Linked DNA regions of Homo sapiens. The protein of the gene in region 1 purifies or fractionates together with the protein of each later gene. This does not show direct contact. Each region holds a gene or a part of one and is shown in the gene's direction. Other genes may lie near its edges.

The links.
Region 2: the proteins of FMO2 (region 1) and STK38L purify together in Homo sapiens (affinity purification with mass spectrometry; one large-scale study listed by BioGRID and IntAct). This does not show direct contact.

What each region holds. Positions count from the first base shown.
Region 1 is NC_000001.11:171,198,735-171,202,562, forward strand, and holds part of FMO2 (flavin-containing monooxygenase 2), read left to right. Parts: intron 1-611; coding exon 612-754; intron 755-3,828. UniProt on the Homo sapiens protein: Catalyzes the oxidative metabolism of numerous xenobiotics, including mainly therapeutic drugs and insecticides that contain a soft nucleophile, most commonly nitrogen and sulfur and participates to their bioactivation.
Region 2 is NC_000012.12:27,309,984-27,313,811, forward strand, and holds part of STK38L (serine/threonine-protein kinase 38-like), read left to right. Parts: intron 1-2,565; coding exon 2,566-2,689; intron 2,690-3,828. UniProt on the Homo sapiens protein: Involved in the regulation of structural processes in differentiating and mature neuronal cells.

The sequences.
Region 1 (3,828 bases):
ATGTCATTATATAGTCCAAAATAGTATATAATAGGCAGGCAGAAGACAGTATCTGGTCCTGCTGTGTTCATCACCATTTATTTGTCTCTGATAGAGACAAACTGCAGCCGTAAGCTGCAGCCTCTGAAATAAAAAATCAACCCCTTTGGTCCTGTTTTTTTGTTTGTTTTTTGTTTTGTTTTGGTGTTGTGACAGTCTCACTCTGTCACCCAGACTGGAGTGCAGTGACTCAATCAGGGGTCACTGCATTCTTTACTTCCCAAGCTCAAGCAATCTTCCCACCTCAGTCACCCGAGTAGCTGGGACCACAGGCATGCACAACCATGCCCAGCTAATTTTTGTATTTTTTGTAGATACAGGGTTTCACTATGCTGCTCAGGCTGGTCTCAAACTCCTGGGCTCAATCAACCTGCCTAGGCCTCCCAAAGGGCTGGGATTACAGGCCCCACCTGGTCTGGTACCTAAACTTTCTTATGTGCTTTACTCCTATAGAGAAGAGGCAAAACAAATTATTAACTCCAGAAAGGAAAAGCTGGCAATGCAGTTTTATTGAAATTAGCTTGACATAGTTGCTCTGGAGCTCACAGACTTCTCTCTTCTTCCCCCTGAAGGTATGGAGAGGTTCAAAGGCCAATATTTCCATAGCCGCCAATACAAGCATCCAGATGGATTTGAGGGAAAACGCATCCTGGTGATTGGAATGGGAAACTCAGGCTCAGATATTGCTGTTGAGCTGAGTAAGAATGCTGCTCAGGTGTGATGCTCTCTGCTTACCATGTACCTGGAGGGGAGGAAGTGGGGATGCCATACTGGAGAACCCCAGCCATATAATCGCGGCTCCAATCCTCATTAACTAGTTGGTTGGTAGCGCATTGTGGCATCATAGAAAATCTGGAAGTCAAGAAACCACTTTACCTCCTAGCTCTGTCAATAACCAGCCATGAATCCTAGAGTGATTCATTTCACTTCTCTGGGAGATGGCTCCCTCATTTTTAAAATGGGAACTTTTGACCAGATGATTTTCCATATAAGAGGCCTTTCATCAACATGGCTCACTGCAGCCTTGACCTCCTGGGCTCCAATCTTCCTGTCATCTCAGCCTCCTGAGTAGCTGGGACTACAGGCACATGCCACACCACACTCAGCTAATTTTCATATATTTGTAGAGATGAGGGTCTTGCCATGTTGCCCAGGGTAGTCTCAAACTCCTGAACTCAAGCAATCTGCCCGCCTCAGCCTCCCAAAGTGCTGGGATTACAGGCATGCACAACCACACCCAGCCAAGAGGCCTTGTTTCTACCTGGATGTTTAATGAGAGGTTAATCTGTTCATATTCTGGAGGGTGGCTTTTAGAAATTTAGTGTGTATTTGAATTATATTTGAAATATAGATAACCTTCAGTTACCCAAATATTATGAAAAGAAAGATTAAATAGATAGTAGGTCTCTCAACTAAAATCATAGATATTTAGGTGCTTCCTGAGGCCTTCTAACCACTGTCTTCTTTGCACCTGCTCAGGAATGACACCAGCTGAGCTGCCAAAGAGTCAAACATTCATTACACGATGATGCTGCTGATAGTGGTGGTCAGGAATAGCAAAAACTAAACTCCTTCTGCAAGGACAGACCCAGGCAAAGAAGGGAAAATCACTAAACATCCTTTCCCAAAGTATTCCCTCTCAAGAAGGCCTGAACCAGATGCCCAATCACTCTTACCCTAGCTCTTTCAGCCTGATGTCTCTGGCCACCCAGGGCTTACCATGGCCCTGTGCACAACCAACAAATCATTTCCATCCTAAGTCTTACACTTTCAGGACTCTAGATACCCAGTGGCAAAAGTTACAAGCAAACATGACACCCGCCCAGCAGGTTAATGAAGGGGTTATACTGGGACCTGTCAGAGTCATCTATCAGTCAGTTAGTTAGTGCCAGCCCGGGAACAGAGCAGGTCACTAACACCGGAAAGAGACTTACTAGACCCAATAAGTCTTCACTTTGTGAAAATAAACCTCTTGTCACTTATCACCTCAGTGTGAAGAACAAGTGAGGAGGCAGGAACTGTGACAGCCTGGAGAAGAGCAGAGCTGGAAAATGAGAGTACCAGCTCTAGGCTCTTTCATGCTAGGAATACCCGCAAAGCCTTAGGAACAGTGTGTAATGGGGCAGTATGTGAGGAGCTAATATAGCAGTCAGCCAAGTGAAGATCCATCCTAGACTACTTCACGTTGTCAGACCAGTGATTTGGATTTAGATCTCTTCATTCCAAAGATATCAAATCTTAGATGGCAAGAACCAGTTCCTTGTATGGGTCTTGCCCTACAGGAAGACTTATGGTGTGAGATTCAATATTAAGAAACTACCTTGGCTCTATATGCATGCCTTACAGCTTCTTAAACAATCTTTTGCACAGAGTGCAAAAGACTTTGTTTCCATCTCCCTCTATCAGTGTAAATGCCACTAGATGCCCCCTTTTTAGGAGGTACTTCACTTTGAGGTCAATCATCTTTAAAACAGAGCCTCAGTAAATTCTGGGGCTATGCATGTGATACATCACCTACATAATAGATTCCTCCTAAATATAATGTTATAATCATACATTTCCAGGATTATACTCATTCATCTGCACTAATCTCTTCAATATTTATTAGAGTAACAACATAAATCTATAACTATGATAAAACCTCTTACACAGAGTAATATACTCTCAAGCCTTCTGTGAAAAGACTAACCAGAGACTTTACAGGAGCTATACATGCTAGGAACGGAACTAGGCGCATCTGCAAAACTTGAAATTACAACCTGAACTCACCAAAATTCTGAGTGTGCACTGCTCTGTTAAAAGAAATTCACCTTCATAAGGATACAGCACCCTCTACCACAATCCAAAAGCACCACTCAAGATCATATGGGATGGTGCTGCATCATTGTATTAGTCCATTCTCAACGCTGCTATGTAGACATACCCGAGACTGGGTAATTTATAAAGAAAAGAGGTTTAATTGACTTACAGTTTGGCATGGCTGGGGAAGCCTCAGGAAACTAACAATCATGACGGAATGCACCTCTTTACGAGGCTGCAGGAGAAAGAATGAGAGCGAAGGGGGAACCCTTATAAAACCATCAGATCTCGTGAGAACTTACTCCCTATTAGGAGAACAGCATGGCAGAAACCTCCCCCATGACTGAATTATCTCCACCTGGTCCTGCCCTTGACACGTGGGGATTATTATAATTTAAGGTGAGATGTGGGTAGGGACACACAGCCAAACCATATTAGTCATTTACATACTTCTGACCAAAAACCAAATCTCTGGCCTTTGACCTAAAACATGCGTCTCAGAGAAAGCAGCCTGAGCCTAAATCCTCATGTTTCTCTCACTGTTGCAGCTAGTGTCATTAAGGCAGGTTAGACCACCCTGCTGTAGGGAGGGTCACAACAGAAAAAGAGTGAATCAAACGGGCAGAGCATACCATTTGAAACATGGTTTGCTCCTGAGAAAGAAGAGGGGACAGTAAGTAATGGAAAGAGACACTAATGAAAATATTTTTGTATCTAATATCTAATCAAAGTATTGCCAAGTCAGCCTATAAGGGCAACGGCAGGAGAAATTCAGAACATAGGTATATACCACACACAGACCAGCAATATAGGAATGCTTGGTATAGGTGCTACTTCACAAGCTAGGAATGTAAGGCCCATCCCCACAAAATTTGTCTCCAAATTCTGGTTTACTCCAGACATAAGGCACTGTATGAAACTCCTCTCTTCCAGCCTAACTTTATAACTTAACAGCTAGCAGTACTTATCACTTGCCAGGCAATATTTCAA
Region 2 (3,828 bases), on another chromosome or scaffold:
TTTTTGAATATTTAAGGAGAGAAATTGTGAAATGGTCATTTTCAGGTGCGGGAAAGCAGACCTGCTAAGGAAATGCAGTTGAAGGCTCATTGAGATTTGCAGTCATGAATTTAAAGTGAAACCCATTGGCATAGCTGGGTGATTTTTCACCCTAGTTTCAGTTAGGTTAAGAAGGTAATAGGAACCATCAGGAGACAGGGTTATAGGGGATTTTGTTGATGACAGGCTATGATTCCCCAGAGGGAAGAGGTGTGGAAGGCAAGGAAGGTTGAGATACTGAGTTGGATTAGAGAACTATAGATAATGATGGGAATATAGCAAGACCCCATTCTCCACAAAAAGGAAGAAAAAAGAAAGATAATGATGGCAATAAGGACGTGGGTAAAGATGCATAGCCTCAGAGACAGGGAGGGCAACAGGAATCTAACTTAGCCATAATGGGATTAGTCCTACTAGGGTATAATAGGAAGGACAGAAGGAAGCAGTTAGTTCCAGCTGTAGTGTAGATACCAGCCAGCCACATGTGGCTACTGGGCACAAATTGGGATATCCAGCAAATAAGGCTTGGTGCAAAAATAAATAAATAAATAAATAAAATATTTCAATGATTTTTATATTGATTACATACTAAGGTGATAATATTCGGATATATTAGGTTACATAAACTGTATTATTAAAAATAATTTCATTCTGTATGTGGCTTCTAGAAAATTTAAAAATTACATACATGACTTGTGTTACATCTGTACTGGACAGCCCTTGGTCTACAATATTTTGTGGGAAGTTAAGGAGCCTCTGGACCACTGCTCTTTCCTGTGGGGAGGTGGGGGGCGGAAATCTCTCCGTAGCCTAACGTCTAGTTGCCTTTGCATTTTGGGGTTGTTTTTTACCCCTGTATAAATTAATTTGCATTTGTTACCACTGGATTTTGTTTTAGAAAGCTTTTTTCTACTCAATTCTAATACATCAATATTTTAACTTTTATCACATTTATTTTAATGCAAACCACCCCCACAAAATTAAATACCAACTGATCTCCTCACTGTTGTTCTACCAGATTACTATAGGTCATACTTTCCAACCTTTGGATCCTGTTTTGGAAAGGGATCCTGTAATTTGGCTTTAAACCATTTAAAAATAATCAAGCCATGTTTATGTTGTAGTTGTTTTCCTTACACACCAGATGCAACACCAAAGTTTAGGGCTTTTCCTTACCACCTTAAATTGCTTCATGAAAGGTAATAGGTAGGCACTCTTGCTACCACTTTTCACTTAATGAAACAGATCCATAGAAATTATAAAGTATTTTCATGCCAGAAGACAAGTTCTTACTCCTCAACTCTTACGCTTTGATCTCAGAATATTTACTGCACTAGGAGTAATTCCAAATATGACACTTTAAGCAGATCATATTTTATTATCATAGAAAGGTTTACAAATGTATGTTCTCATGTGCTTTGGACCAGAGTTTTTAACGTTGCACAATGAAAATAGCAAAAGCATAAATCAAATCTTATTAATCTTTGGAAAAAGTGTATAAATATATTAATGCAAAAGCATCTGCAAACTGACCAGTTATACCAACCCCATAAATTATCCAGTTTATAAAATTTTCCAGTCTATAACATTTTCACATGATAGTATCTCTAGTAATTATGTGTCCGAGAAATCAGTGGCAAAATCCCCAAAAGTTACACAAATTTGCTTTAGCTAACATTTATAGATATGGTAGAGGTTTTATATTATAACAATAATATAACATAAAGTTACTATAATTGTTACTATTTCTTTAAAAAACACCAAATAATGATCAAGCTGGGACCTTTGTTTAACAATTAAAAATAGTTTGCTATTTTTAGCCAAGCTTAGGTTTGCTGTACCAATTTACAGGGCATTGCTTACTCTTTTTTTTTTTGAGATGGAGTCTCGTTCTGTCACCAAGCTGGAGTGCAGTGACGCAATCTCGGCTCACTGCAACCTCCGCCTCCCGGGTTCAAGCGATTCTCCTGCCTCAGCCTCCTGAGTAGCCGGGACTACTGGTGTGTGCCACCATGCCTGGCTAATTTTTTGTATGTTTAGTAGAGACGGGGTTTCACCGTTTTAGCCAGGATGGTCTCAATCTCCTGACCTCGTGATCCACCTGCCCTGGCCTCCCAAAGTGCTGGGATTACAGGCGTGAGCCACTGTGCCCGGCCCTGCTTACTACTTTTAACTTTAAAAATCACACTAGTGCCCTAAATTTATGTGACAAAGCCAGGATCCTAGGCTGGGTAGAGATTCTGGTTAAAAAGTTGTTAGACTGATTCTTGCTCTACCTCAGAGGCCTCAGCTTCACGTAATATACCTGTTGACCTCACCTTTTCAGACCTAAAGATATAAGCTAAAATAAACTATTTCTTGAGGTTCTCCATATTTGATGAGAATACGAACATTCATACATGTATCAAATCTTCTGAAACTCCATCTTTCCTTCATTAACTGTTATGGATGGATAAGTGTAAGAGATGAGTTTAACAAATGTGTGATGTATTTACAATTATTTTTTTCAAAAATATATTCATCTAGGTGGCCCATATCCGAGCAGAAAGAGATATTTTGGTAGAAGCAGATGGTGCCTGGGTGGTGAAGATGTTTTACAGTTTTCAGGATAAGAGGAATCTTTATCTAATCATGGAATTTCTCCCTGGAGGTAAAAGCAAACATTGTATCAATGACAGACTGATACAAGCACATCTTTATATGCAACAATAATTTTATTGGTGAGGTTTACTTTTATATTCTTTGCTCTGAGGCTTTACATAGTCACAGTTTAAAAATATTTACTACCATATTGATGCTCATTTTTACCACAAAACAGATTGTTTTGAAGGAATTATAAAGTTAGCACATTTTAAATATTACCGTTCTGGGTTCACTGTATATAATTAGGTTGTTATAAGTTGTGTTAGTTTATTTTATGTTGTTACAAAAAATACCTGAGACTGGATGGGCGCAGTGGCTCACGCCTGTAATCCCAGCACTTTGGGAGGCCGAGGCGGATGGATCACGAGGTCAGGAGATCAAGACCATCCTGGCTAACAAGGTGAAACCCCGTCTCTACTAAAAATAAAAAAAATTAGCTGGGCGCAGTGGCGGGCGCCTGTAGTCCCAGCTACTTGGGAGGCTGAGGCAGGAGAATGGTGTGAACCCGGGAGGCGGAGCTTGCAGTGAGCCGAGATAGCGCCACTGCAGTCCGGCCTGGGCGAAAACAGCGAGACTACGTCTCAAAAAAAAAAAAAAAAAATACCTGAGACTGTGTAATTTATAAAGGAAAGAGGTTTAATCATTGCTCAGCAAAGAGGGCAAGGGGAAAAGAATGGCAATGGAGGGCAAAGAATTCTGGGTTTTGTTTTGTTTTGTTTTAATTTTTATTTTTTGAGATGAAGTCTCGCTCTGTTGCCTAGGCTGGAGTGCAGTGGTGTGATCTTGGCTCACTACAACCTCTGCCTCCCGGGTTCAAGCGATTCTCCTGTCTCAGCCTCCTGAGTAGCTGGGATTACAGGTGCCCACCACCATGCCCAGCTAATTTTTTTTGTATTTAGTAGAGACGGGGTTTCACCATGTTGGTCAGGCTGGTCTCAAACTCCTGACCTCAAGTGATCCACCCACCTCAGCCTCCCAGAGTGTTGGGAATACAGGCGTGAACCACTGCCCCTGGCTCCCTATTTTTTTTAAAGCCTCAAAAAATATATGAAAAAAATGTAATCAGTTGTCAATTCTGTGTTGTAAGTGCACCAGTGTTTACAACAGTTAAAACTGTTAAAACTTTTAAAATTCCTTGAAAATAAA